Linked DNA regions of Homo sapiens: all the other regions are linked to region 1. The links come from fine-mapping of genetic effects on gene expression. A gene starts in region 1. Each other region holds a variant in brackets. All regions are shown on one strand. Distances are between the middles of the regions. Region 1 holds the start of HYI (hydroxypyruvate isomerase (putative)). Region 2 overlaps SZT2 (SZT2 subunit of KICSTOR complex). Region 3 holds the start of ELOVL1 (ELOVL fatty acid elongase 1). Region 4 overlaps TIE1 (tyrosine kinase with immunoglobulin like and EGF like domains 1). Region 5 overlaps MED8 (mediator complex subunit 8).

What was found.
Region 2: its variant is fine-mapped to the expression of HYI in whole blood (TOPMed, PIP above 0.99).
Region 3: its variant is fine-mapped to the expression of HYI in whole blood (INTERVAL, PIP above 0.99).
Region 4: its variant is fine-mapped to the expression of HYI in whole blood (TOPMed, PIP 0.90).
Region 5: its variant is fine-mapped to the expression of HYI in whole blood (TOPMed, PIP above 0.99).

What each region holds. Positions count from the first base shown.
Region 1 is chr1:43,451,423-43,456,422 of GRCh38, forward strand. It overlaps HYI (hydroxypyruvate isomerase (putative)), which reads right to left and starts at 2,509. Exons shown (of 8, transcript NM_001190880.3): 1 at 2,173-2,509; 2 at 1,964-2,075; 3 at 783-897; 4 at 513-591; 5 at 376-425; 6 at 226-295; 7 at 1-122. The coding sequence starts at 2,371. SZT2 (SZT2 subunit of KICSTOR complex) reads left to right here. Exons shown (of 72, transcript NM_001365999.1): 72 at 1-2,825. HYI-AS1 (HYI antisense RNA 1) reads left to right here and starts at 2,505. Exons shown (of 2, transcript NR_174945.1): 1 at 2,505-2,631. RefSeq lists enhancers at 1-398, 399-1,285 and silencers at 2,076-2,135, 2,246-2,545.
Region 2 is chr1:43,402,663-43,408,632 of GRCh38, forward strand. It overlaps SZT2 (SZT2 subunit of KICSTOR complex), which reads left to right. Exons shown (of 72, transcript NM_001365999.1): 2 at 515-640; 3 at 939-1,112; 4 at 1,718-1,888. Among named protein-coding and RNA genes, the nearest start is that of SZT2, 16 kb to the left of the region's middle. The variant G/A (reference allele first, on the strand shown) is at 3,239.
Region 3 is chr1:43,364,944-43,370,913 of GRCh38, forward strand. ELOVL1 (ELOVL fatty acid elongase 1) reads right to left here and starts at 3,068. Exons shown (of 8, transcript NM_022821.4): 1 at 2,972-3,068; 2 at 621-680; 3 at 243-433; 4 at 1-65. The coding sequence starts at 666. LOC112268225 (a long non-coding RNA gene) reads left to right here and starts at 3,269. Exons shown (of 2, transcript XR_007066049.1): 1 at 3,269-5,970. RefSeq lists silencers at 1,368-1,457, 2,718-3,397, 4,337-4,522 and enhancers at 1,775-2,509, 2,510-3,244, 3,838-3,917. The variant G/A (reference allele first, on the strand shown) is at 3,498.
Region 4 is chr1:43,309,815-43,315,784 of GRCh38, forward strand. TIE1 (tyrosine kinase with immunoglobulin like and EGF like domains 1) reads left to right here. Exons shown (of 23, transcript NM_005424.5): 10 at 1,857-2,015; 11 at 2,180-2,317; 12 at 2,491-2,787; 13 at 3,321-3,611; 14 at 3,964-4,154. Among named protein-coding and RNA genes, the nearest start is that of TIE1, 12 kb to the left of the region's middle. The variant C/T (reference allele first, on the strand shown) is at 2,370.
Region 5 is chr1:43,378,600-43,384,569 of GRCh38, forward strand. MED8 (mediator complex subunit 8) reads right to left here. Exons shown (of 7, transcript NM_201542.5): 7 at 5,318-5,970. LOC112268225 (a long non-coding RNA gene) reads left to right here. Exons shown (of 2, transcript XR_007066049.1): 2 at 1-600. Among named protein-coding and RNA genes, the nearest start is that of MED8-AS1, 3.5 kb to the right of the region's middle. The variant A/G (reference allele first, on the strand shown) is at 2,763.

The sequences.
Region 1 (5,000 bases):
CTCACAGCCCACGAAGCCTTTGTAGCCTTCATCTTCCAGCAGTTGAAACAGATAGGGGAAATTCAGCTCTCCGGGGCTGCTGGGCTCCCCTCGGCCTGGGACCTGTGCCACCTGCACATGCCCTGGGGACAGATGTGGACAAATGTGGGGTCCAGGCTCCTGCCAGGGCCTGAAGGACAGATGTGGGGATTGAAAGGGTGGGAGGGCAAAGGAAGGTCCTCTCACCAACAATGGGCAGGAACTCCCGGATGTTTCCTGTCAGGTTCCCATCCATGATCTGCCAGTGGAATATGTCCTAGGGAAGAGGATACTACATTCCGAGACCCCGCAGGCCCCGCCCTCCTTCCGATCTGCGAAGTACCCCCTTCCACTTACCATTTGTAATTGGAGGTTGGGTCTTCCTACCTTCTGTAAGATGGCTGCCGCTGTAAGAGAAGCCAGGGAGGGGACCGTGAGCCTCAAGAGCACAGGAATCAAAAGGGACAGAAGGAGAGACAGGGCTGGGGTCGTACCCTGCTGGGGCGTGTCCAGGAAGTACTGGGGGTCAGTGATGCGGGTGTTGATGGGCTCCAGCAGTCCCACGAGGTCCTCCTAGCAGCATGTCGGGTGCTGTGAATAGAGCTCCTTCCCAAGTTTGTCCCCCATCAGTCAGTCACTGGTCAAGGCCCTCACCTGTTCCTCTGACCTAGGCTGGCAGCCTCACGTGCTGTCCCCACTGTGCACCCCCTTCTCCGCACACCCACAGAGACATGTAAGTACGTGTGTGTTTCCACCTTTCTCACCTGAGCCAAAACCCCAGCTGCATGCCTCAGGTTCTCCAGAAAAACGGCCTCCATCTCAGCCTTGACTGCTATTCGATCAGCTCCCTGGGGTACTCGGCCAGCCATCAGGTGGATCCTGTGGGGAAGATGGACTGGAGGCCTTGCCTCCCTTGGCTCTCTCTGCACCTCTTCCAGGATTCCCTGACTGTGCCAGCCCTCGTCCGTCTCCCCAGGTCTCCAGTCCATGGCACCTGGGTCACGATGCCCAGGTATCCCAGCACTTTCAGAGACACTTCAGTGATGGCTGAGGGGCAAGCCCTTTCCCAGACATCTCAGTGTCCACCCACCGCCTCCTGCCTCCAGTACTTTCCAAAACCTTTCCTTCCCTCGGTCCTTCTCCGCAACCTGTAACCTGCTAAATTCTCACCTTTAAAAATTGTCCTGACCTTTGCTTGCCCTTCTCAGGTATTCCATGCTGCTGTCTCTACTTCCTCTCCTCGCATCTACTTAGCCTTTTCCCATCTGTTTTCTGCCCCCACCATTGACCAGTAGTGATCCCCTCTTGCCAGTTCCTTCTGAGCCTGTTTGGCCTCTGCAGGATTTGACATTTGAATCAGCCCCACTTTGAGCCGTCCACCTCCTCCCATCATCCCCTGATCTTAGCCACATCCAGCTCCAAGCAGACATTCCAGGCCTCCCCATCCCAACAGGCTACATACATGTCCAGCCTCAGGAACGCTGCCAAATACACCAGGCCTCCTCTTGCCACAGCACCCTTGCAAGGAACACTCAACTTCCTGCCCATCAAGCAATGCCCACTCCTTGAAGACAGTCCAAGCATCACTACCTGTAAGCAGCTTTCTCTGATCCAGACAGGGTTAGGTGCCTACCCTGCTCCCACAGCTTCCTGGAATAGGCCTGTCCTCAAATGCATCACTGTATATATTTACTCTCCTATCTGCCTAGGCAGACTGAGCTCCCAGCATGGGATCCCAGCATGGGGTGAGCATGAAAGAGTGGCAAACAGAGTGGCATAAGACAGATAAAATACAAAAGGCAATTTACAAAGGACCAGGACCGCAGAGGCAGAGATAAACCAGTGGGCTCAGACTTCTGAGCGTCTCAGATCTGGCGTCCTCGACTCCCTGAACCTGCATCAGGGTCATGGGTCACAGGGGTGGGGGTGGGGTGGAGCGGGGTACCTGGGACAGCCCAGGGCTTTGGCATACCGCACGGCCTGCTCCAGTCCCTCTCGGAAGGCCGCCTGTCTCCCGGGGACGGCCCCCAGCCCCATTTCCCCCTTCTCTTGGTCTCCTGCAGAGAGAACGGGCCTCAGCCCCCGGCTCGGACACTCCCCTGCCCGCGCCCCGGCACCCCCCAGCCCTCCCAGCCCTCCCGGCCCGCGACGCACCCGGGGGCGTGTTGATCAGTACAAGCCGCAGCCCCGCTTCTCGCGCGGCGCGCGCCAGCGCCTCAGGCGTCTCCGCGTACGGCCAGGCCACCTCGACGGCCTCGAAGCCCGAGCTGCCCGCGGCCCGCACCCGCGCGGGGAGGCCGGAGAGCTCGGGGAATAGCCAGGACAGATTGGCGGAGAAGCGCAGCGGCGCCATGCCTGGGGAGGCCGGGCCGGGCGGAGTCCGCGGGATCCAAAGGCGGCGGGCGGCGGGCGGCGGGCGGCGGGCGGGGGCGGGGCTCTCCTTGCTGGCCCTGCGAACGAACGAGCACTGTTCGTGGTTAGAAAAGCGAAGTGCTGTAAAAACCCGGGCCTTCACGAAAAGCGCCTACGGTTAGCGAGAGAGGGATCACGGGGAGAGGCGAAGGGGCGGAGCGAGGGCGGCCGGAAAAGGAGCAGGACCCGCGCCTGGAGAAGGTAGGGAGGCCGAGCTCCAGGGCCTGAGAGCCGGACGCGAAGCAAGAGAGAGCTGGCTGCCCGAGGGCCCGGTTGCAATGATGGGACGCGCACTTTAATACTGAGTCTTTCCTCTGATTATAAAAATGCTATCTGTTCGTTAAGCAACATTTGAAAGCTGTATGACCAAATAAAGAAGCACTTTTATACCGCCAGTTATCACACCACTAGCCTGTTGGCTTTCCCGTCCAAATTTTAAAATATGCAATTTTTTTCTTTGGAAATTCTGATCATTCGGTATATGCTGTTTTATAGCTCTTTTTCATGGAATATTATTTTGTGAGCATTTCCTCGTGTTTTCCAATAGCCTTCAAAGTCAGTGCCTTCGCTGCTCATTGTCGCACACCTAAGCAGCAAGTCATTATTGTACTTTGTGGTTGGATATCGTGTGTGTGCACGCGCGCTGCAAGCGCACTTTCAGGCACTTCTTAGTCCCTATCTCTGACTCTTTTCCGAGTCTTTTTCTAGAGATGTCCATCACAGTGTTTGCCCGTTCACGCCGCTAGTCTTTTGCAAGGGAAACCGCCCCATTGGAGCAGCTATGGGTGAGCTGTCCCTTTTTAGCCTTAGCCTCAGCTGATTGGACCAGGGAGGTCATCTGATCCCAGGGCAGCCAATCCATAGACTGGCCAAAAACCTCTTACTTGCGTCGTTTGGAAAGGTAATTTAACCAATCAAGAGTTCAAACAAGGAAATGCTGAGAGTCAACAGGTGGTGTTGCCAGAAGGTGACTGGGCTGTAGAAACGAAATAAGACAGTCCTATGGTAAAGAAAAGCTAGAGCGGAAAGGAGGGGAACCAAGTCCTGTGAATAGAGGTAGCACCCTGAGAAACCCATGTCATCCCAAGGGTGCCCAAACCCATAGCTGCCCCCAGGTCTGTGCACTTAAGGCTGGGATGCTTAGACTTTCCTGGGTTTCTGTCTCTGTATAGCCTCTTAATGTTTCTTGAGATAATTTGAATGATTTTACTTTCATCTACAATAACCCAACTGATTGGGCAGGTTCTTATGGGTAGAATTACATGGTCAAAAATAGGAACATATTTAAGTTGTTGATATCTTAAATTTCCTTTGAAAAATATAAATTTATATCCCAACAATTCATGAGTAAACGTCATCTTGATCTATCGTCTGTGCTAACTTTGACAGAGAAGCTTAAAGTGCAACATTAGGAACACCCAGCTCCCACTGATTGTTCTGTCAACACTCAACTCCATCTCAAATGAGGCCAGCTCAGACACCAGGGATCCAGCCTGATCCCGTGGTGAACCCAAATTCTTGGCAGGTTCTGTTTCTTCAGCTCTGCCTCCAAGAACAGACTGCTGCCAGCTGACACTGATCACCTGATTTCATGCTCTTTTGCAGCTGGTTTTACACTAGGACCTTTGCCTTGTCTTGGAACGTGTTTCTCGTCCAATCAAGACCTCACTAAGCTTAACATTGTAATCAGTCCCAACTTTAGTGTGTTTGCAATCCAAAATTGACAACAAAGAGTAACATCTAGAGGAAGTAATTCCTTTATTACCACCTCACTGTTGATCTCCGAGTATGCAAATTCTATTTATGATGTTGACAGCTGCTGAGCTCTGCGTCAGAAACAAAATGTGTCCAACTCCCGATTGTCCACCCCTTTTTTCCTTGGACATGCCTTAGGGCAGTAAAGATTATACATAAACTAGACATAGGTGACTCACTTTCCCCTTAATTCCCTTACAACACCTTCCACCTTCACATAATATGCTCAAATAAATATATAAGGAGTGCAATGTCCATGAAAATTATTTGCTTTATTCACCTTTGACTATGTCTTATCCCACCTTGCAACACAGGCATGACACTAAGTTATCACAAGTTTTGATTCTTTGCATTTGCCTTTTTTTTTTGCTTTATTGTGCACACTTCACAGGTACGTATTTGACTTTTAACCAAATAATTTGCACAGGTGTGATTTTAAAGTAACAACAACTTGTAAATAGTTGCATGGATAATGGCAAAAACTTTAGTACAGAGTTCAGAGTCTCATTTGATCATTGGATAACATTTGGCAATGCAGTAAAACATATTACAACTCATGTGAAATGCAAATCAAAACCTCAATGAAATTCTATTTTATGCCTTCCACATTGGCAAAAATAAAAAACACATTATCAAATATTGGATAGGATTTGGAACAACTGCCAACAGGAGTGTAAATCACTATAACCTCCTTGGAAAACAATTTGGCATTGTCTCTTAAAGCTAATATGCCTATGATCTGACAGTTCCTTTCCCAGGTGTATCCCCTGAAGAAAGTTTTGCACAAGTGTACCAGGAAAGAAGTAAAGTGATGT
Region 2 (5,970 bases), 48 kb before region 1:
GTGCGGGGGTGGGGACTGTGACCCACAGAGGTTTGATTTTGAGGTATTTGGAAGGCTTGCTATTCCTTCGGTGAAAATTTCTTCGGTGCCTGCTGTTGTCAAGACTTGTTAGGAGTAACTGTCTGGCATTCGTGTAATGTATTAGGGACTTGTCCTGGTATTTGCTCTGTTTGTAGCAATTTGCCAAGCACAGGGGCACAAAAGTAGAATCAGACACAGCCCCTGCCCTCAAAAGCTTATAGTTTATAGGTGAAACTCACATAAACTTTGTGGAAACAATATGGAAAGGTCACTTCATCTATATGGAGGTCTGTATCGGGCAAACAGGAACAGAGAGTTGAGAATTGACTCCCTGGGAACACCTTGCATGGAGGTTGGGGTAAACTTTTCACTTCTGCTGTTTTCCCTCTCATTGATGGTGAGTTCCTTGGGCAAATTATTTGGACAGTGATCTGTGTGTTCCAGGTACTCGGTGCCATTTTTTAAAGATGTATTAATGTCTCTTTGTTCCCAGGTGGAAGAAGCTGGGCAGGTGTTCCTGTTAATGAAAAAGGATTATCGAATCTCCCGAAATGTTCGCCTGGCTTGGTTCCTCAGTCATCTGCACCAAACTGTGCAGGCCACACCCCAGGAGATGCTGGTGAGGCTTAGACACACGAAAGGTGTGAGGGGCCAGCCCAGAAGGATCTGTTTTTTAGGAGAGTGCTAGAAACAGACAGGGTGGGAGACTAACTCTTAAGTCTGGTTAGGGCAAGGGACTGCCTACAAGATGATGGAAATTTTAAAAAATAATTTTTCCAGAGAGTGAGAGGAAGAGTATACGGTTAGATTGAGGGAGGTAGAGCCAATGATGTGTCATTTGGGATATAGAAGGCAGGTCCTGGGAAGAAAGGGATACTTCGCTGATCCTTTCCTTTTCTTTCCATCCTAATTTTCAGCTTCAGTCTGAACAGGAATTGGAAGTCCTCAGTGTCCTGCCCCCTGGGTGGCAGCCAGATGAACCAGTGGTCCCAAGGCCATTCCTCCTGGTACCTTCCACCCGGGTCACCTTCCTGGCTTGGCAGTATCGGTTTGTCATTGAGTTGGACCTTAGCCCATCTACTGGCATTGTGGTAAAGGATTGAAGGGAGACTGTGGGAAGAAAGGATGGGGTGGGGTGTGAGGAGAGGGAGAGGCCTGTGGGGAAGTGAAAAATGGTCCCAGCCTACCATTTTGGAGAGAAGACAGGCTTATAAAGGAATGATGGGTGTTTAAAAAGAGCACTGGGCCAGCTGTGGTGACTCATGCCTACAATCCCAGTGCTTTGGGAAGCCAAGGCGGGCTGATTACTCGAGCTCAGGAGTTCGAGACTAGCCTGGGCCACATGGCAAAACTCCCTCTCTATAAAAAATACAAAAATTAGCCAGGCATGCTGGCATGCACCTGTCCTAGCTACTCGGGAGGCTGAGGTGGGAGGATTGCTTGAGCCCAGGAGGTCGAGGCTACAGTGAGCCGGGATCAGGCCACTGCGCTCTAGCGTGGGCAACAAAGCAAGACCCTGGTTTTGTTGTTTTTGTTTCCAAAAAACACCCCAGAAACTGTTCCATGTGTGGCACTGTATTTGGGTGTGCGATCATCCATAAGTTAAGTGTCCTACTGACCCATGGAAGCTGCATGTTTCTGCCCTCTGGTTAGGGCTGCCTTTGGACCCCCTTGAGTGCTCTTTCTCTGCCCTCAGGATGATTCCACAGGGGAGATCTTGTTTGATGAAGTTTTCCATGCCCTGTCCCGCTGCTTAGGCGGGCTGCTTCGGCCCTTCCGAGTGCCTGGATCTTGCATCGACTTCCAGCCTGAGATCTATGTAACTATCCAGGCCTACTCCTCCATCATTGGACTGCAGTCCCACCAGGTATTGCATCATCTCTCCAAGTTTGTACCCTCAGACCAAATTTCTATTAGTCCTCTGACCAAGTCCTTATCCTGTCTCTGCTGTTTGTCCCCAAAGTCCCGAGCTCTGCTGGCTTCTTGAACCTGTTTTCTAGTCATCCTCATGAGTCTCTCTCTCCTTGAGAAGAACCAGTTCCTCTGGACTTAAAGGGCTTTCCTATAGACTTCGGGTCAGTTGGTGTTGATTGGACACCTGCCTTTTTCACTGCTCCTGTAAATCTCTTTGATTCTGACCACTGGATGTCTGTTTTCTCCATTCCCCTCTTCTCCTTTAGTTCTGTTGGATGGTTTGCTGATGCGCTGGCTCTGGCTAGTACCCTCAGGAGATGGTCTTTTGGAATAGTTTTGTGATTTTGAAAGACAGCACATAACCCAGAAATGTAATTGGTTTCAAGGATAGAGGAGGGTCATTTTTTGTTGTTGTCTTTTTTTGAGACGGAGTTTCGCTCTTTTTGCCCAGGCTGGAGTGCAATGGCACAATCTTGGCTCACTGCAACCTCCGCCTCCTGGGTTCAAGCGATTCTCCTGCCTCAGCCTCCCAAGTAACGGGGATGATAGGCACTCACCACCAGGCCCAGCTTATTTATTTATTTATTTATTTTTAGTAGAGACGGGGTTTTGCCATGTTGGCCAGGCTGGTCTTGAACTCCCGACCTCAGGTGATCTGCCAGCCTCGGCCTCCCAAAGTGCTAGGATTACAGGCGTGAGCCACCGTGCCCAGTGTGGGTCATTTTTTTTTTGAGGGCCATGTGAACTGTTGGTTATAATGCTGACCACACAGATAATTACAGGGCTTATCCAGCACTCAAGGAGGCTATCACAAGACACTCCTTTTGGAGAATGGCCAAGTCTGTTACTGGAATATCTGTTTATGACTTAGATAAGCATTGGCCCAGTTTCCCCTCATCTGCTTTTAACTACCCTTAACTCATTGGTAAAGGCTTTCCCTGAAACTGTCCGTGATGGCTGCATTGTCACCTTAGCTATCAAACTGGATTTGAGAGATAAGATATTGGGAACATGATCTAAGGGTCTGAAACATACAGCAACAAAATTGGTGCATACCTGGATCCCAGGGCAGGGATTGCCAGCCCTCTGCCCTAGTTTAAAGTGCTTTCCTAGTATAGCCGTTAGGACTATCAGTTGTGGGCTGCATCCCCAGATGGGGGCCAGGTTTTGCAGGCACTGATAGCCAAGGCAGGGAGAGCATGGATGTTAGGTAATCACTCAAAACTTGGTTCAGGTTGGCAAACACTTAATGAAGCCTGAGCTATACCAGGCCTGAGCAGGTCCTGAAGACACAGATGAATCA[G/A]ACCTTGTCTTTCTCCTGATGTGAAGAGTTGAGATTTTAGTGGGGGAGATAAATATTAAAGGGAGGTAATTGTAGTTGAATGTGATAAGGGCACCGATAAGATGACTCAGGTGCTATGGGAGCACCAAGAGGGAGCACCCAACCAAGCATGGGGCCACAATAGAGAAGTCTTTCAGACAAAGCAGCATTTGTTTTTCATGTTTTTGAGACAGAGTCTTGCTCTGTTGCCCGGGCTAGAGTGCAGTGGTGCAACCTTGGCTCACTGCACCCTCCACCTCCTGGGTTCAAGCAATTCTCCTGCCTCAGCCTTTCAAGTAGCTGGGATTACAGGTGCCCACTACCACACCCGGCTAATTTTTGTTTTTTTTGTTTTTTTTGGTAGAGACAGGGTTTCACCATGTTGGCCAGGCTGCCCTCGAACTTCTGACCTCAAGTGATCCACCTGCCTCAGCCTCCCAAAGTGCTGGGATTACAGGCATGAGCTACTGTGCCTGGCCCAAAGCAGCATTTGAACTGAGTTTTGAAGAAAGAATTGAGGTTAACCATTCAAAGAAGGGGAAATGGACTTTTCTGACAGAGGGACCAGCAAAAGCAAATACATGGTACTATGAACCTGTACTCTCAATCACAGGTGTTTTAGGGAACTACATATTATTCAGTGTCAACAGAGTAAAATTTGAATGTGGAAAGGGATGGTAAAGAGGAGACTGTAGACATAAGTGGGAGCTGGTTATGAAAGGCCATGAATGTGACACTAAGGACTTTGTGCTTTATTCTATGGGGGAGTTCAGTGTGGAGGATAAGAGCACTGGATCTGGAATCACATTGCCTGTGTTTGCTTCCTGGCAGTACCACTTACTGGTTGTGTGTCCTTGAGCAAGTTACTTAACCTTTCTGTGCATCTGTGACCTTTTTCCAAAGGGGATATTAACATTGCTTATATCATATGGTGATTGAATTAATACATGTCAAGCACTTAGAACTGTGCTTGCCACATACAGAATGTGCAAATGTTAGCTATTAAAATAATTAGCCATAGGTAGCGGAGAACTACTGAAAATTTTAAACAGACAGTAACAGGATCACATGTCTACATTGGGAAGATCACAGTATTTTGTGGCTAATATGGAGGATGGATTTGGGGACAAAGTCTGGATGGGAGAATAGGCGAAGATTATTGTAGCATGGGAGAGAGGAGGAAGCCTGAATAAGGACAGCAGCTATAGGGAAGGAGAGGATTTCATCAGTTAAGCCCCAGGGCCACTTGGCCGCCCTGAGCCAGCCTTTTCATTTTCTCTGTGGCTCCCTCAAGATGTATCCTGGCTGGGCGCAGTGGCTCATGCCTGTAATCCTAGCACTTTGGGAAGCCAAGGCAGGTGAATCACATGAGGCCAAGCGTTTGAGACCAGCCTGGCCAATGTGGCAAAACCCTGTCTACTAAAAATACAACAACAACAACAAAAAAATTAGCTGGGCGTGATGGTGCATATCTGTAATCCCCGCTGCTTGGGAGGCCGAGTCATGAAAATTGCTTGAACCTGGGAGGCAGAGGTTGCCATGAGCCAAGATCACGCCACTGTACTCCAACCTGAGAAACAGAGTGAGACTCTGTCTCCAAAAAAAAAAACAAGATATATCCTGTTAAATCACAGCACAGCAGTGCGTGCCTGTAATCCCAGCTACTTGGGAGGCTGAGGTGAAAGAATTATTTGAGGCCAGGAGTTTGAGACTAGCCTGGGCCACAGAGTGAGAACCTGTCTCAAAAGAAAAAAGTTAATTCACATATATAATACATGTCCACAGAGATTTGAAAAATACATTAAAATATAAAGAAAAAACAAAACTCATCTATAATACAATACCCAGAAACAACAGGAGTTGTGCAAACAACAGTAGTTGTTTCTGGGTATCGTATTAAATTCTAACCTTTTTTTTTTTTTTTTTTTTTTTGAGACAGAATCTTGCTCTGTTACCCAGGCTGGAGTGCAGTGGCATGATCTGGGTTCACTGCAACCTCCACCTCCTGGGTTCAGGTGATTCTCCTGCCTCAGCCTCCCGAGTAGCTGGGACTACAGGCGCCCGCCACCACGCCCGGCTAATTTTTTGTATTTTTAGTAGAGACGGGGTTTCACAGTGTTGGCCAGGATGGTCTTGATCTCCTGACCTTGTGATCTGCCCGCCTCGGCCTCCCAAAGTGCTGGGATTACAGGCGTGAGCCACCACTCCTGGCTTAAATTCTAACATTTTATGGAACTTTCTTCTAATTTTGTGAGTGTGTCTTTATCCTCCCTCACCTCCATCTCTTTACCCAAAGAGAAAGGGAGAATCAAGAGGCTCATTCTAGACACGTGATTTTATGTCCTGTTTTTTGTTTTGTTTAAGAGACAGGGTCTCACTCTGTTGCCCAGGCTGGAGTGCAGAGGCATGATCATAGCTCAATGTAACCTTCAACTTCTGGGCTTAAGTGATCTCCCACCTCAGCCTGCCAAGTAGCTAGGACTACAGGTGCATGCCACCATACCTGACTAATTGTTTTAAATTTTTTTGTAGAGACAGGATCTTGTTATGTTGTCCAGGCTGGTCTCAAACTCTTGACTTCAAGTGATCCTCCCACCTCAGCCTCCCAAAGTACTGGGATTACAGGCATGAGCTGCTGTGCTTAGCCTGTCCTGCCTTTTTTTTATTTTTTTAACATATAGTATGGGCATTCTTGTGTGTCACTAAATATTCTT
Region 3 (5,970 bases), 86 kb before region 1:
CTGTTGGAATAGTCCACAGGGTCACAGCGCCAGGTATAGGTGCTCAGCCAGCCCGACATCAGGAACTGGGAAGGGATGTGGATTAGACCACCAGAGTTCTCCCTTCCCAGCCATCCCTCCCCTTCGCTAGCTGAGGACATGGATCTGAACCTCTCTGGAAAGGAGAAATGCCATGCTCTGGCTCTATGGCCTGCTCCTTATCCTGCTGACAGAAATTAAAGCCCGGCATCCCAGGGGCCCACCTCATAGACAATGTAGAGGGAGAGTGCCACCAGTGAGAAGTTGTAGACAATCATGAAGCCACGGAGCTGGAAGGGCTTCCGATTAGCCATGATGCGAGGCCCAAGTGAGAGAACGAAGTACACGTAGGTCAGGAGAATGGAGGTCATTAGCAAGGGGGACCCCATCAGAGGGTAGCCCTGGATCCGGGGATCTATGAATAAGGGTCAAAGGAATCAGGAAGAGTCACAGGGTTCGAAGGGTCTTCATTTGAAGGGTCTACAGACATGAGGTCAGGTCACAGGATCAAGGGTTTCATAGGAACTCTCCATTAGAAGACAGCCGTAGATCCAGGGATCCCGGGAAAGAAGGAAGGAAAGGGCTGGTGGATAGCGTCTTACCTGCGTGCTTCATCACCTCTTGGTACAAGTTCACAACAGCCTCCATCCTGGCTAAGGACTCTGGGGAGGTACAGAGGGCGGATGTCAGACAGATCCCACTGCACACCCCCATCCCACAGAGATAAGACACAGAACCAGACAAGACACCTGCAATGCCTCATTGCAGAAAGGACAGAACAGTGAAAGGAAGGAATTACTGGGAACTAGGGGGAGGAGGCAGTTTGGTTGAGGCATCTGCTCCCCACACATCCTGCTTGCCTGGGAAGAGCTGTTCCACCCTTCCTCTCCACACCTTACTCTCCTCTCCTCTCCACAGTTTTACTTCCTGGCCTCCCTTCCCCTCTTCCTCCACAAGATAACTCTCAATTCCAGGTCTCTTACTGGAGAATCTTACCTTCTCACCAACAGGGAGCTCTTGAACTCCGTCTCCCTTCCTCACCCGAGTCCCTCACCTCCCCAGCTCTGGGTCTTTCTTCTCTCCAGGGATTCTCCCCTTCAATCTCTCCTCTCCTGCCCTCTCCTCTTCCCATCCCTCTGGACCCTTCCTGAACTCTCTTCTCCCCAGGGTCCCTCCTGTCCCTGCCAGGACTCTCACCTCTCTGGGCCCTTCTGTCCCTCCAGAACCTTATCCTCGGATTCCTCCTTGCCTGTGCTGGGACACTTATGTCCCTACGATTCTCCTCTGCCTTTCCTGGGACTCTCACCTCCAGCCTCTCCTCTCCAGCGCTCTCCTCTCTCCTCTCGCAGAGCCCTTCCTCTCCTGGAGCCTGGCTCTTTGAGACTCCTGCCCCGGCGGCTCCACCTGTCTGACTAGATCTGGCAGCAGCCCCGCCCTCTGCCCGCCCCTGCTGTACTGTGCAGGGGGTGGAGGGTGGGTCCGGGCCACAGGTCAGTGCCTGGGGGAGCAGGACCCACCAGGATTGGGAAAGCCAAGTAAAGCCCCAGACTCGCCACCCACCCACCCACGTGGGACCAGCCTGATGAGCTAAGGTCCTAGATTCTGAGCCAGAAACCTCCTCTGACCCCAGCCCCAGCCCCAGCCCTGGCCCAAAGCACTGCTGAAAATCCACACCCAGCATCCTCTCCTAAGCCGGCCATAACTGCTCAGTTTGTCCTACTTCAGAATGGGTACAATCACTCTTCCCTTCCTGGGAAGGGCAGGGAAGCCAGTGGCATGTGAAGGGGTTGGGGAGTGGGGGAGGTCGCAGGAATCTTCCCCTCCCTCAGGGAGGGGCCCCGTTGGGCTAGGCCCCCTCCCCCTCAGGGCCTGAAGGAATGTCGGGGGAAGGCTCCCAGGGACACAAAAGCCTCTGGCCAGACCCAGGAGAGCATGGTACTGACAGTCCCTGAGGGACAAGGCATTCTTGGAACAGAGCAGGGCCCAGGGCAGCAGGTGCCCCAGACTCCCTGCTTCCAGAGAAGCACCTCTGCAGATGCCAAGTGAAGAGGCGCACCTCTGACACCTCCCTGCCCCGCACACCCCTCACCTCCAGGAGGCCCGGCTTCTTTAGGCCCACCGTGGTCAGGCCCCAAGCCTGCGGTCCACACCCACCTCTCACCTAGCTCTCCACCCCCAACAGCGAAGGTGCCACGCCGAGGGCTGGCACACACGTCTCCTGCCTGACACACCACGCAACACCTCCGTGGGCTGACACGCATGGCTCCCGGCCCTCACGCAGCTCGGCCACCGCCCAGGCACACGCACGGGCTCACCCGCGGGGCCACTCACACACGTGTGCGCGCTGCCTGGCCACGCTCGGATCCCCTCCTTACTTGCTCCCCCACCATCGGGCTTGCTGGCCGCCCATCGCCGGCAGGGCCCAGGCCGGGGCGAGGGCGCCAACACAGGTTCCTCCCTGACACATGGGAGCCAGCCAGCCTGTTATCTCTCAACCACCAGCCCCCAATATCAACCCACACACCCGGCAGGCCAGGAGGGACCAAGGCTCCTGGGAGGACCTCTCCCCAAGCTGCAGGAAAATCTGGGTGTGTCTCTCGTCGGGGAACTCAGCCCGTCCCTTCCTTCCTTTAAGATGGATGGAAGGGAAAAGGTGCCTGGCAAAGTTAGGGTAGCGGGGGGAGGGAGGGGAGAGGAGGAGGGAGAGAGGTAAATGCAGGGGTGGTGGAGGAAGGCCCGGGTGTAGGCAAATGGGGGCCAGAGACGGGGGTGTGGGGGAGGGAGGGTGCTGGCGAGGCCCGGCCCCAGGGAGCTGGGACCTCCCACCCACTGGCCCCGGGAACACCCTCGCCCACAGCCTGGGCAGGGCAGGGCAGGGCTGGGCCGGGCTGGGCCGGGCTGGCCAGGCAGGGGGCGCCGGCACGTGGAGAGTCCGTGGAAGGTCCAGACTCACCCGTAGGGGCCAGGCGGGCAACGGCGGAGCGCTCGGAGGGAGCAGGGCCAGAGAGAAGTCCCCGGGGCCAGCCTGCCTGCCTGCCACTTCCTCATCTGCTGGGCCGACTTTCTGTCACCAGAGGGGGAGGGGCGGGCCGCGCGGGGGGCGCCCGCTGATTGGGCGGCCGGCAGGGCCGGAGGCCGGCAGCGCAGGCTCGGCCGGGGCGGGGGCAGGGGCGTGCCGCCGGGTCCCAGCAGGAAGCGCCGCGGCCCGGGCTTCCCACCCCTTCCCTCGCCGCCCGGGCCCGCCCTGGCCAGTTGCAGCGGCCTGGCCACCTCAGGAGCACGCTGTCTCTTCCCGACGTGCAGCCCGGGGCCCGGCCCTGTCCCCGGGTGACTGCTCCCCGGCAGGACTGCACATCTGTGGCGGCAGGCCCAGCTCAGGGCTCGGGGGAGGTTCGGCCTTGCCTTCAAAGAGCTCCCTCTCCTGCAGGGCGAGCGCAGAGCGGCGGGCGAGACCACACTGCGTGTGCTGAGGGCGCACT[G/A]GTCTTAGCGGGAGGGAAGCCTCACGAGCCTGTACACTTGGAGGAGCCCTAAGCGTTAGGATCTGCTGCGAGGGCTGCCTGGAACGGAGGTGAGAGGATACAAGTGGCCCGGGGCAAGCATAGTGAATCACTGGCTAATCTGGCCTTCGAGGTAGTGAAAGGAAAAAAGGGAAATGAAGCTGACTGTGGCTGAATGTAGTAGGTCTTGAAGGCCAAATGGGGCGATCTGATTTTTATTCTAGAAGCAGAGGAGAAACTAAAGATTTTTTTAGGAGACTATATTCAAGCTTGTATCATTAGTTCATCAGACGTTTATGGACCACCCACCGTCCGTGCACTCACGGGGCTTGCAGTCTATCTGGCTGAATCACTTTGGCAGCCAGTGTGAGGAGGGCACAGAAAGGAGACCAGGTGAGAAAGCCAGCCTGACCAAAGAAGATGTGGCAACTGATGGGATTGGAGGAGGCGGACAATGTCCTCCAGACAGCTGGACTGGCTCTCTATATATTTATTTATCTCTTCTACACCTCCAGCCCCCACCTCCACACTCACTAACTGGACTCAACTAGTGGGGGCAAAGGACAGACTAGATTTTAGTGAAATGGAATTTCTACCTCCAGCGGCCCCTGGAACAGTAGCACACAACGATCTAACAACTGCTTGTATGATTGGATGGTGTAAGTGCGGACAGAATTAGGGAATTTGGGCTACTCTGGGCACACTGCTTATGGGGCAGCCCTGCTCCGCAAGGAAAATAAACACATTTTTTTAAAAAAAGGCCGGGCGCGGTGGCTCACGCCTGTAATCCCAGCACTTTGGGAGGCCAAGGCAGGCGGATCACGAGGTCAGGAGATCGAGACCATCCTGGCTAACACGGTGAAACCCCATCTCTACTAAAAATACAAAAAATTAGCCGGGCGTGGTGGCGGGCGTCTGTAGTCCCAGCTACTCGGGAGACTGAGACAGAATGGTGTGAACCCGGGAGGCAGAGCTTGCAGTGAGCCGAGATCGCACCACTGCACTCCAGCCTGAGCAATAGAGCAAGACTCTGTCTCAAAAAAAAAAAAAAAAAAAAAAAAAAGGCCGGGTGCGTTGGCTCACGCCTGTAATCCCAGCACTTTGGGAGGCTGAGGCGGGCAGATCACCTGAGGTCAGGAGTTTGAGAACAGCCTGGCCAACATGGTGAAACCCCGTCTCTACTGAAAATACAAAAATTAGCCAGGCATGGTGGCGCAAGCCTGTAATCCCAGCTACTCGGGAGGCTGAGGCAGAAGAATTGCTTGAACCTGGGAGGCGGAGGTTGCAGTGAGCCGAGATCAAGCCACTGCACTCCAGCCTGGAGTGCAGGGCAAGACTCCGTCTCAAAAAAAAAAAAAAAAGGGAATTCGGAGACCAGCCTGGGCAACACAGTGAAACCCCATCTCTACTAAAATACATTTAAAAAAAAATTAGCTGGGCATGGTGGTGTGCGCCTGTTGTCCCAGCTACTTGGGAGGCTGAGGCAGGAGAATTGCTTGAACCTGGGAGGCAGAGGGTGCAGTAAGCCGAGATCATGCCACTGCACTACAGCCTGGGCAACAGAGCAAGACTCGTCTCCAGAAAAAAAAAAAAAAAAAAAAAAGATGTTCATAAATGGTAGGATAGGCTGGGGATGGAGGCTCACACCTGTAATCCTAGCACTTTGTAAGGCTGAGGCAGGCAGATCACTTGAGCTCACAAGTTCGAGCCTGGGCAACATCGTGAGACCCCGGCTCTACAAAAAATACAAAAAATCAGCTGGGCATGGTGATGCATGCCTATAGTCCCAGCTACTCTGGAGGCTGAGGTGGGAGGATGACTTGAGCCCAGGAAGTGGAGGTTGCAGTAAGCCAAGACTGCGCCACTGCACTCCAGTCTGAGTGATAGAAACCTTGTCTCTAAATAAATAAATAAATAAATAAATAACTCCACAAATGGTGGGATATAGCTATGTGAAAGTTTAGTCCTAGAGTTTAGGTAAGAGGTCTGAGCCAAAGTACAGATATGACCCAGCCTATTAGTACCCATCCTTGAAAGGAAATGGCAGAATTCACTGTTTAAAAGGCTCCAACACTAAGGTCCTAACTGATCTGGTCCCTGCCTTGTCCTCTCATTCTACCTGTGACACTCTCCTGGGCCCCACCCAGTGCTTTAACCATTCCCCGAGGATGTCAGCATCTTTCATACCCCCCTCAACCCTCAAACCTTGCCCCCTGGCTCAGCACAAGGAACAGTCAGGTCTCCTAGGCAGTAAATCACTCCCTCCTCTTGCTCCCACAATTGTAATTATATGCTTATCTGCATCGCAAAACTATAAGCTCCTCTCAGCATGGGCCATGTTTTGTCATCTCTGTATCTCCAGCATCTGGCCCGTTATCTGGTACTCAGTTGGCCCTCTACCTTTGTTGAATGAATGTTAGTGTGAATGGGATGACGTGGGAAAGGAAGAGAGGCC
Region 4 (5,970 bases), 140 kb before region 1:
ACCGTCACACACAGACAAGTATACCTTTAACTCTGCTCTGGGATGCTGCCTCCCATCTCTGAGTCACCCCACAGACACTCAGTGCTAGCCCAGGGGAGCATATGGGGCTATGGAGCTCAGAGGGTGACCAGCTTGGCTTCCTAGAAGTGGTGCATGCCTAGAAATCTTCCAGGTAAATAAGGAGGGACCTCCCAGTGCCCAAGATTACTCAGACCAGAGCACCCCCACCTGCTCTAAGGCCTCCTTCGCCTTCTCCAGCTTCTCCAGCACCCTAAGTCTTAACCATTCACACCCCTGCCACCCCCTGACCCTGCTGTCCCTCTGCTCCTGCCACCCCATGTAAGCCCCCTCTCTCACCTTCTGCTTTCTCGTTGCCACACTCTGCCTCCCAGGTCCTCGCCATCTCCCTATCCCGTGACTATGCATGACTCTCTGCCATCAAGCCTCACCTTCCGCCTTTCTCTTCTCACTGTGCCCAGGCTTAGGAGCCAGACAACCTGGGCTTGAATCCTCTCTCCACAAATTCCTTGCCCCATCACCTTAAGGAAACTACTTAACCTCTCTTACTTTGTTTCTCTCTTTGTGAAATGGGGATAGCTAGCACTTGATGGGGTTGTTACAAAGATTAAATTTGATGATGTATTTAAGCATTTAGCACAGTGCCCGATACAGGGTGTGTGCTCAATGTATGTCGATAATTATTGTTATTATTTAAAATGTCACCTAGTCCCTAGATTTTGATAGTTCTCTGGCAGCTCTCACATATGATCTGCAGCCAGGACCCCTCTTCTGACTCCAGATCATTTGGTGGGGACTCCATGAAGTGGGGCATCTACTCTGGAAGTCTGGTTTTGAAGTTGGTGTGGAAAGTAGCTGCTGTATGATTCGGAGGCCCATTTTATATCCAGCCACTTCCTGGACATCTAATCCCCTGCGTGAGCCAAAGGCACCAAGGGCTTCTCTGCACCCAAAATGGACCTTCATCTCCCCGCAAATCAGCACTGCCCTCCTGACATGCTCATTGCTGCCTGACACTCCCTCAGCTTACAGCGCGGCATCCTTTTCCTCCCTCGCTCCCTCCCTCTTTCCTTCCTTCCTTTCCTCTCAAAAAGCCAATCTGGTAAACATTTGTAAGAGTCAAGGGAACCTGTTAAAAGCACTAATGCAATAATCTGGAGAGAAAAAGTTGAGGCCAGAATAGGAGCAGCGATCATGGGGTGAGGAAGTGGGGCAGGAACAAGAAGGCTGTTTTGGAGTAGAATGGATAGATCTGAGGCGGCCTGCGCAGACAGACCTAGTTCAACACATGGCTGTATCTCCTTCTAGTTGTGTGTCCTTAGGCAAGTTATTCGGTGTCTCTGAGTCTCAGTGTTTTCATAATGCAGGGTAATGTGCCCTGACAGAAAGGTGGCTGTGAGAATTAGAGGTCATGCTATGAAGCGTGTGGCGGGGAGCAGGTGCTTCAGTGCCAGTGCCATTTTTTTTTTTTAATAAGAGAGTGGTGAATGAGGGCAGGGGCAGAGAGCAGGATGATGCCCAGGTAGTCTCCCTGACCTGGGTTTCGGCCCCTTCTGTCTACCCCCACACTGCATGGGAAGAGTGCACCCCCAAACCATGTCTGGCCATGTCACTTCCTCATCTACCATCTTTTGGGACACCCTCATGCCTTTATTGCTTAATCCTTGTGCCCCAAGCTACCCAGGGGCCTGAACTCTGTCCTCCCTGGGCCCTGGCCACTATGGTCATCTGTTGAACTTGGTGTCCCTCAAGCCCAGAGGGTCCCCAGCTTGAAACAAAGATGCAGAAGTGGACTGGATAGGCTGTGTGCCCATGCCTTACCCTGAGTCTCCTGGCAGTGCCCCCCGTGCCCCTGGCTGCACCTCGGCTCCTGACCAAGCAGAGCCGCCAGCTTGTGGTCTCCCCGCTGGTCTCGTTCTCTGGGGATGGACCCATCTCCACTGTCCGCCTGCACTACCGGCCCCAGGACAGTACCATGGACTGGTCGACCATTGTGGGTGAGTAGGGAGAGAGCTGGGGCAGGACAGAGGTGTTGGGTAATAGTGAAGGGATACAGTGAGCAGGAGAGGGAGGGCAAATGGTGCGAGGGGGCTGAAGGGAGCATGGCAGCTTCTAGAAGAGGTGGGGGCTGAATAATGTGTGCTTTACACCCCACGCCCAGTGGACCCCAGTGAGAACGTGACGTTAATGAACCTGAGGCCAAAGACAGGATACAGTGTTCGTGTGCAGCTGAGCCGGCCAGGGGAAGGAGGAGAGGGGGCCTGGGGGCCTCCCACCCTCATGACCACAGACTGTCCTGGTGAGAGGCCAAGAGTCATCCCTTCCTGTCCCCCCAAGGGTTACTTTCCCGT[C/T]GACCCCAGGGACCCCTGCCTTTCCCACTGGAGGTTGTTCTTCCTTGTTCACTGGGGATCATTGTCCTGTCCAGCCCCAAGTACCTACTGGACAGTTCTGACCCCTGACCTCTGGCCCCAGAGCCTTTGTTGCAGCCGTGGTTGGAGGGCTGGCATGTGGAAGGCACTGACCGGCTGCGAGTGAGCTGGTCCTTGCCCTTGGTGCCCGGGCCACTGGTGGGCGACGGTTTCCTGCTGCGCCTGTGGGACGGGACACGGGGGCAGGAGCGGCGGGAGAACGTCTCATCCCCCCAGGCCCGCACTGCCCTCCTGACGGGACTCACGCCTGGCACCCACTACCAGCTGGATGTGCAGCTCTACCACTGCACCCTCCTGGGCCCGGCCTCGCCCCCTGCACACGTGCTTCTGCCCCCCAGTGGTATGTGCAAGGCGCAAGGATAGCTGGGGGTTGGGGGAGGACGTGGGACACAGGGACACATGAGACCTAGGAGACACGGGAGGCTGTAGGAGATTAATGGACATGGAGAGGACACAGGACACACATAGGGTATTAGGCAGACGTGACCCCAGCGGGGACATGGGACTTGGGGAAGATCCAGGGTACCAGGAGGACACAGATCACCAGGAGCATGTGGGGAGAGCATGGGGAGGTCAGGGTTCATGGCGAGAACCAGGGTCATGGGAGGGCATGAGACTTGCGGAACACAGGGCATGGGCGGATGTGGAGAGGACTTGGGATACAAGAAGTACAAGGAGAAGCAGAAGCTTGAGGGTGAAAGTGGCCTGGGGGAATGGAGAGGAATTCAGTCTGGTGGGGAGGAGGAAGTTGGCAGGGTGGCCCCTGTGCTTGGACCCACAGAGGAGGGAGCACAGCTAGAGCAGATGTGTCCAGCCCCACAGCTACATAGCCCGGTCCTATCTGAGCCTTGCCTTCCCCCACCATCTCCCCAGGGCCTCCAGCCCCCCGACACCTCCACGCCCAGGCCCTCTCAGACTCCGAGATCCAGCTGACATGGAAGCACCCGGAGGCTCTGCCTGGGCCAATATCCAAGTACGTTGTGGAGGTGCAGGTGGCTGGGGGTGCAGGAGACCCACTGTGGATAGACGTGGACAGGCCTGAGGAGACAAGCACCATCATCCGTGGCCTCAACGCCAGCACGCGCTACCTCTTCCGCATGCGGGCCAGCATTCAGGGGCTCGGGGACTGGAGCAACACAGTAGAAGAGTCCACCCTGGGCAACGGTGAGAGGGCAGGGCCCACAGGACCCCCCGGGCTCTGAGCGGGGAGAGCTCAGCACGCTCTCCTTCCACATCACCCCCTACTGTGGAGCTAGGGCATCCCAGGCCCCTCCTGACAAAGAGTCAGCCCCAGTCCTGGGGACTCAGCCTTCCATTCTCATGATCCACTGTCCCAGGGCTGGGAAAATCATGTCGCCCCTCTGACACCCCTCATCCCTTCCTTCATGTGGCCCAAGTGATTTCCTGACAGTCCTGGCACTGGGATCTTTCACCTCTCCCTCTGTGTAACCCCATGGTGGCCTCTGGGTTCCCTGACCCAGGTGTCCCCACAATCTGCCCCTCTCACTGTGTCCAGGGCTGCAGGCTGAGGGCCCAGTCCAAGAGAGCCGGGCAGCTGAAGAGGGCCTGGATCAGCAGCTGATCCTGGCGGTGGTGGGCTCCGTGTCTGCCACCTGCCTCACCATCCTGGCTGCCCTTTTAACCCTGGTGTGCATCCGCAGAAGCTGCCTGCATCGGAGACGCACCTTCACCTACCAGTCAGGCTCGGTCAGTGACCCGCCCCGCCCCTGGGTGCATGCTTGCAGCCCGTGTTTATGTTTCTACCTGTGTACACACAATACCTTGTACACCTTGTGTGTGTGTGTGTGTGTGTGTTTATGTTGCAGGTATAAGATTACACTCAACAATGTTCAAGGGTACAAAATATAATTTTCTTTATTTCTCTAAAACTGAATTCAGCTCATGAGCCCATTTATATTAGTGGTGAAATATTTAATATTCCCATTTCAAAAGAATTCCGTGATGACCATATTTCACAATGGACATTCCAGTTTTGGGCTCCGTCAATTGGAGATTTTCCTCTCCCCTCTTTTATTTCTCCCTAGCGGTTATCTAGGCCTAGATAGCAAGGTGATCAAATGGAAGGGCACTTGGGGTTCATGCTGGCTTTTGTCCTTGCAGGCCTTCCTGGGCTCGGGAGCCAGCCTCTGTCTGCACACATCTTTGGCTGATGTTCTTAGCCCTGCTGTGGCCACCTGCCAGTAGGCCAGTCATGCTGTGAGCTCCTCATCCTAACCTTCATTCTTGCAAATCCCAGGGCCTCCTTTTGGAGACTTAAGAAAGGGGCTGGGCACAGTGACTTGCACCTGTAATCCTAGCATTTTGGGAGGCTGAGGCGGGTGGATCGCCTGAGGTCAGGAGTTTGAGACCAGCCTGGCCAACATGGTGAAACCTTGTCTCTACTAAAAATACAAAAATTAGCCAGGCGTGGTGGTGCATGCCTGTAATCCCAGCTACTCGGGAGGCTGAGGCAGGAGAATTGCTTAAACCCGGGAGGCGGAGGTTGCAGTGAGCCGAGATGTTGCCACTGCACTCCAGCCTGGGCAATAGAGCAAGACCCTGTCTCAAAAAATTAAAAAAGAAAAAGAAACAGAACTAAAGAACTGTAGGGGCTTCCTTATACCTTATGGAAGGAGGCATATTCTGTGGCCCTCAGACCGCTGCCACAACCCCTTCCCACTTAGACAACTGTTTCTACCACTCCAGAATTGTGCTGGCCTGCTCCTTGAAAGAGGAAGCACAAACCTCCACTCCTCCTGGCTTCCCTGTAATCCTGCCCGAGTTGTCTGTCCTCCTGTAGCCCACACCCTTCTGTCCCTCAGGCCCCTGCTTAGAGGTGGGGTGTGGGAGGGCACCCACTGTCACTTTATCCTGTCACATTCTAGCCGCCCATCCGCAGGTCCTGTCTCCTCTGAGGGCTTCTTCATTGTCGTCACTTAGGATCTGAACTCTGTCCTTGGCCTTCCAGGCCTGGACTCTTGATATTTAGAGCTAAGCTTTGGCATTTCAAATAAAAAATAAAAAAAGAAAGAAAACCCTCTTCTCTCTCAAGGGCTGATCCTTGTGATAGAAAGCCTAGTGTCTCTGCTATGCCTTTGAAAAATCCATTCAGAGGCCGGGCGTGGTGGCTCATGCCTGTAATCCCAGCACTTTGGGAGGCTGAGGCGGGTGGATCATGAGGTCAGGAGTTCAAGACCAGCCTGCCCAGTTGGTGAAACCCCATCTCTACTAAAGCTACAAAAATTAGCCAGGCACAGTGGCAGGAGCCTGTAATCCCAGCTACTAGGGAGGCTGAGGCAGGAGAACTGCTTGAACCCGGATGGCAGAGGTTGCAGTGAGCCAATATCACGCCACTGCACTCCAGCCTGGATGACAGAGTGAGTGAGACTCCATCTCAAAAAAAAAAATCCATTCAGAGATTCAATTGGCTTCTTTGTTCCAAGCTGTGTTGGCTCTTCCTCTGAGGTCAGTGCACACAGAAAGCCCTCACTGCTGTGGTGGGGGAGGGTAATGGGTACAGATG
Region 5 (5,970 bases), 72 kb before region 1:
AAGGAATGGAGGTTTGAAAGAGCTGTCACATTCAGGAAACTGCAAGCAATGTTGATGGCTTGGGAATTGAGTGGGTGGCATGACAATAAGAAGGAGGCAGGGGGCTGCATCACACAGAATCTTACTTGCCTTTCCAGAAAATCTGAGCTATTTTTTAAGTTTTTCCAATGAAGTAAATGTAATGGCCAAAAAGAGTAAATAAATATCCCTAGGGAATCTGGTGGCTTAGTCTGAAGCTGTTCAGACTAGTAGGAATTCTTTGAAGACTATTTTTTCTTAATAATGCATGCATGCTGGCTGGGTGTGGTGGCTCATGCCTATAATCCCAGCATGTTGGGAGGCTGAGGCAGGAGGATCACTTGAGCTCAGGAGTTTGAGACCAGCTTGGGCAATGTGGCAAAAGCAATCTCTACCAAAAATTAAAAAATTAGCCTGGTATGGTGGCGCACGCCTGTAGTCACAGCCACTTGGGGGCTGAGGTGGGAGGATCACTTGAGCTGGGAGATGGAGGTTGCAGTGAGCCAAGATCGCACCACTGCACTCTAACCTGTATGACGCAGTGAGACCGTGTCTCAAAATAAAATAATAATGCATGCTAAATGTGTGTTCTCTGTTTTAAATTACTCTTAAGTAAAATGAACATTCCAGGATGATTTTACCTTGTAATTTTCAGTATGCCTGGCACACCCACCCCTACCAACCCACCCACCAGGTATGTTGTCCATATGCCCCCATCTCTACCAAAAATACAAAAATTAGCCAGGTATGGTAGCGAGTGTCTGTAGTCCCAGCTACTTGGGAGGCTGAAGTGGGAGGATCGCTTGAGCCTGAGAGGCGGAGGTTGCAGTGAGCCAAGATCGCGCCACTGCACTCTAGTCTGGGTAACAGTGAGACAGACCATGTCTCAAAATAATAAAATAACAATACATGTTAAATGTGTATTCTGTTTTAAATTACCCTTAAAATGAACATTCCAGGAAGATTTTATCTTGTGATTTTCAGTATGTCTGGCACACCCACCCTACATGGGGAGTAAACTATCAAAAGGCTTTTAATCAACGGAATAATGTGATCAGATCTGCAGTTCAGAAAGACCTATCTGGCAGCCTTTTGGAAGACAAGTTAAAGTGGGCAGGACTGGAGATAAAGGATTTTAATCAGGGGAGTAATGTGATCAGATCTGCAATTTAGAAAGACCTATCTGTAGCCTTTTGGAAGATGAGTTAGAGTGGGCATGGCTAGAGATATGGAGTCTGAACAATACTTTTAGTAAGAGAGGCCTAGAGCCTAAACTGTAGGACAGGGTGGATGGACACTGGGGAGACAGAATTGGTAGGATTTAGTATCTGATTAGGTATGAGGGGGTTGGGGACCCAGAGGGAGAATAATTTAGAATGGTTTCCATATTCCTGGCTTAGAAGAGAAACAGGTGTGTAGGCTAGAATAACTGGATTTGGACATTCAACCAGCTGTGGATCATACAGGTAGAGATATCCATCAGGAATCTGCAGCTCAGCAAAGAGGTCTGAGCTGAAAATAAAACTCGCTTAAATTATGCACATAAAAGTGGTGGTCACAGAAAGCAGGTAGAAGAAGAAGAAAAGGGGGTTAAGGACAAGTCCTAGAGAATAACATTTAAGAAGCAGGAAGAAGTATAAAAGTCCAAAAGCTGCAGAGAAGGAATGGCCAGAGAGGAGGATGAACAAGGAGAGCATGTGCCATAGAAGCCATGGGGGAGAAAGAGACTAAAGGAAATGGTCAGCATTAAATGCTGCAGATACATTACTATGAGGATTGAAAAAACTCTGGATTTAGCCATTAGGTCAACAGTGATCTCTGAGTTTCTGAGGAGTGGTGGAAGTAGAAGCCCAAACACAGGGGTTGAAAAGTGAATGGGAGGTAAAAGAAACAGTGATTCTAAGCACTTTGTTTCAAGAGCATGGCGCGAGTGAGTCAGTGAGAGGGGATGTAGGGTTAAGAAGGATCTTTTAACATGGAAGAGACACTAAAATGGCACTATCTAAGGCCATGAAATGTAGCCCAGAGAAACTGGCAAAAAGAATGAAGGATAGACTGGGTGTGGTGGCTCACACCTGTAATCCCAGCACTTTGGGAGGCTGAGGTGGGAGGATCGCTTGAGCTCAGGAGTTTGAGACCAGCCAGGGCAACATAGAGACCCTGTCTCCATTAAAAATAATAATAATTTAAAAATTAGCTGGGCATGGTGGCACATGCCTGTGGTCCCAGCTACTTGGGAGGCTGAGAGGTGGGAGGATCACTTGAGCCTAGAGGACCACCTGAGTTGCAGGATCACAGTGAGAGGTGATTGTGCCACTGCACTCAAGCCTGGATGACAGAGTGAGACCCTGTCTCAAAAAAAAAAAAAAAAATGAACAAAGGATATCTACGTAGGGAATGTGGGCAAGAAAAGATGAAGAATCAAAATGACCACAAACTAGGGAAATTAGGGTGAGAATTAGGGAAAGCAGTGGAATGGCAGAGAAAACATAGGAAGACGAGCATCCCAAGGCACTTATATTTGATTCAGTAGGAAAGGTTATCTTCATGTGGAAGAAGTATAATTTATTGCCTATACTGGAGGAGTCTCTTTGGTACATGTATCTTGCCCAAGGAGAGAGAGATGTGTGAGGGGGAGGGCGACTTCTAACACACAAGGTATGTCAGAACTTGTAACTTGTGATAACTTTGTGGTAACTTACCATCTCTTTGATGAATCTTCACTTAGAGAAAGATGTTTTAGA[A/G]AACAGTTTCAAGGTTGTGGTCTACAAGGGTGTTGGTATGTTAAGGTGTAGGTGACAGCGAGGGAACTTCAGGAACAGTTTATAGGAGTCTGAGGGACTTGGGGGCTTATCTAGGAAAATTTTGGCCTATTTATGTAACAGTCATGCACCAAGGAAAACAAAACAAAACAAAATGCCTGGGGATAAATGGGTTTGAAAATCATTGCCACAGACTTTAGACCTAAAAAGGATCACTGGGATCACCAAGTGAGAAAACTGAGGCTTAGGGAAGTGAGATGCCTTGTCCACGATGTACTTAGGGAAGCTGCCATGTCCAAATGGCATGTGACTCATTGAGAGACCACAACAGGAACCCAAGAGCTGCCTCAGTGACACATGGAGCTCAAAAAAAAAGAGAAGTTAAAGGGAAGAAGAAAGGAACTTTGTCTTGTGGGACAAAACACATGCTGAAGTGATGGGGCACCATGGTCCCATCAGATGCGTTGGAGTTTGCCTTCTGTTCCAATCATAAAGCCCCATCTGCACAGTGGCAAGCCCTTTCCAAGGGTTAGTCCCCATGTGTTTGAGGTTTCCAGGCAAGAGCCACATCGAGCCTCCATAAGCAGGCACTGTGAACCCTCAAGACTGAACAGAAAAGGACCACATCCCCTGTTCCTACTCCTGGCCCAATGCTAAACTTCAGTAGGCTATTCCCCTAATTCTGGAGCAGATAGGAAAGGCAGATGGAAGAGAATGTACACTCCTTCGTAGTTCATCTGGACAGTAATCAGGAGCTGACCCAGGGTGGGCGTTTGGAAGGACTCAGCCTCCGTCCTGCCTGGTGCTGGGATCAGCTTACACAGCTCCTGTGTCCACAGGGCACAGAGAATACATTGTCCATAAGGAGGATTATTCTGTACAAGAAGCTCAGACAAAGGGAGAGGTTGTTTCCAGCTGCCTGGGGGAGGTGAGAGGGGGGTGGGAAAAGGGACCAGCCTTGCACTGGGGCATTCCTGCAGAGTTCAGCTTCTTCTCTGTGGCAGCACAACAGGAGGTGGGCAATTACACCCCCTCCAGCTCAATCCTAATGCTGGGACCCATTATGGAGTTCTAAGGAGCACTTGGCTACAACCTATCTATCTTGGCTGTTTCCCAAAAAACGACAGGGTTGAATGAGGTACACCAGCTAAGTAGGGCAGCAATAAACACCAGAAGGGGAACAGAATGGGGTGACTGGCACAATGAGCAAAAGAGAGGTTCAGCAATGACTGAATCCCAGGCTCAGGGCAGAGCTGGAGAGGGAGAGATCCTAGGCAATGGGCCTTATGCTGACATTGATTGGATAAGCTTCCGCCTTCAGCAGGATGAACTCTGTCCTGTAGTAAGCTCTTGACGTTTCACAGCTGCTGCTTCTTTCTCCATCCTAGACACAAACCTAGGAGACAATGGCCTAATCTCTTTCTCCAGGGGACCCAAGAATAGGAGAAAGCACGATCTCCAAGCAAAACAGGACAGTCAAAAACAGAGGAATGTTACCAGAGTAGGCCAATAGTCACCTTTTGCAAATCCTAAATCTGAGCCAGTAAATAGGTCATGTCCCCTTCTTCAAAGGAAAACTGTATATGTATTCCCTCCTGAGGGAATGAGTATGTTAGGGGTGGGAGATACATACTCTCTATTGAGGCATTTAATAGGCTGTATGGACCCCAAAGTGGGAGACACTACTGAGATTTGTGTACTCCAGATGATTTGAGGATGGGGGATAAAAACGACAGCATGTGCTCCTACGGTGATGAATGTAGAGGAGTCCCTCTAGAGGAAGGAGTGTTTGCTTAGGGGAACAAGATGTAGGTGACATCCTGCATATGTTCCTGTTGGGGCAAGAGGATATTTCCATTCTTGGATGACAAGGAATCCATTTTAATAGTATGGTGGGGATGAAGTCAGTATTTGCCTGGGACACAAAAAAACTTGGGGTTGGTGCCATTCAATAGGAGGGAATCTTTTGGTGGAGTAAAGGACAATAGTCACCAAAAGATGCTCCAGGAATTTCAGAGAAGCACAGCTCAAACTCTACCCAATATGCCAGTTAATACTGACATTTCCAGTGGGAAGGGAAGAGGTGAGAAGATAACACCTGAGTGGGCTGATGAGCCGGAACAGTTTAAGTGGGGGAAAGGTCTGGCATTGCCTTAGAGCTGGTGACCAGACTCCCCTACTGCTATGTATTGTGGTCAGTGAGCTTTGTGGATACCATTCCTCACCTTGATGGAATGGTAACAGATGTGACATCTGGGACCACTTTTCCAGTCCTTTGCTGCCACAGCCTGGCAGAACTTTGTTTGGCACTGAACAAATGCCAAAGTACCAGTGTGTGACAGAACAGAAAAAAGGCAGCTGGAAGGTATGAGCAGGAGGGAAGTTTCAGGATTTTTAGATCAAAGCTAATTAAAGATACGGAAACTTTTTTATGGAGAACAAATTAGAACTGCCTTGCAGCACTCTTGAAACTGCCCCTCTGATCCCTATGTAGTGCTCTCATAAATTACTGTCAGACAACCCTGAGCCAGTGAACATCAATTTAAATAACTTTATTCAGAGGAATCCTTTGGTCCACTTCTGCTGACTCAACCCCTGCCCATGCCAACAAAGGAGTACTAAGAAAGGCAGGTTAGCCTGAATGTCTAAATTCAATTTGTTCAACTTTATAAAAGCAGGCAAAGCTACTGGGGGTTGCCCCCTCCCACCATCATTCTGGTCCACCATTTGGGCCACAGGCTTAGGGAAATGAAGGAAAGTCGTTTTCTTTGAAGGAAATCCTGGCCAAAGTCGAGAAAGTGGGCACCATTATGAGGTCAACTAAACCCTGATGGCAGTGTGAAGTGCAATTCCCTTCTCCCTCCAAAATAAGAAACATGAATCCAGGGGAAGGGGCTTTTTCGTGTGCTAAGGAAAAACCCTTTCCCACATAGTCCTGCCTGGCAGAGCCACTTCCTGAGAAAGCCTCGTGTGTATAAGGTGGGGTAAAGGATAGGGGACTTTATGACTATTTGACAGGTAAAAGCCAAGTTGGCTCCTTAGAGGATGGAAAGGAGAGCAGGCCCAAGCTTCACCAGAGCTGCAGGTGGGCATTTTTTTTTCCTTCCTGGCCCAGAAGCTTCTTCACCTTGCGCCTTAGAGGGATAGCCAGAATGAAACCCAGGCAGGAGGGCCTGCAAAAACAGTGTGC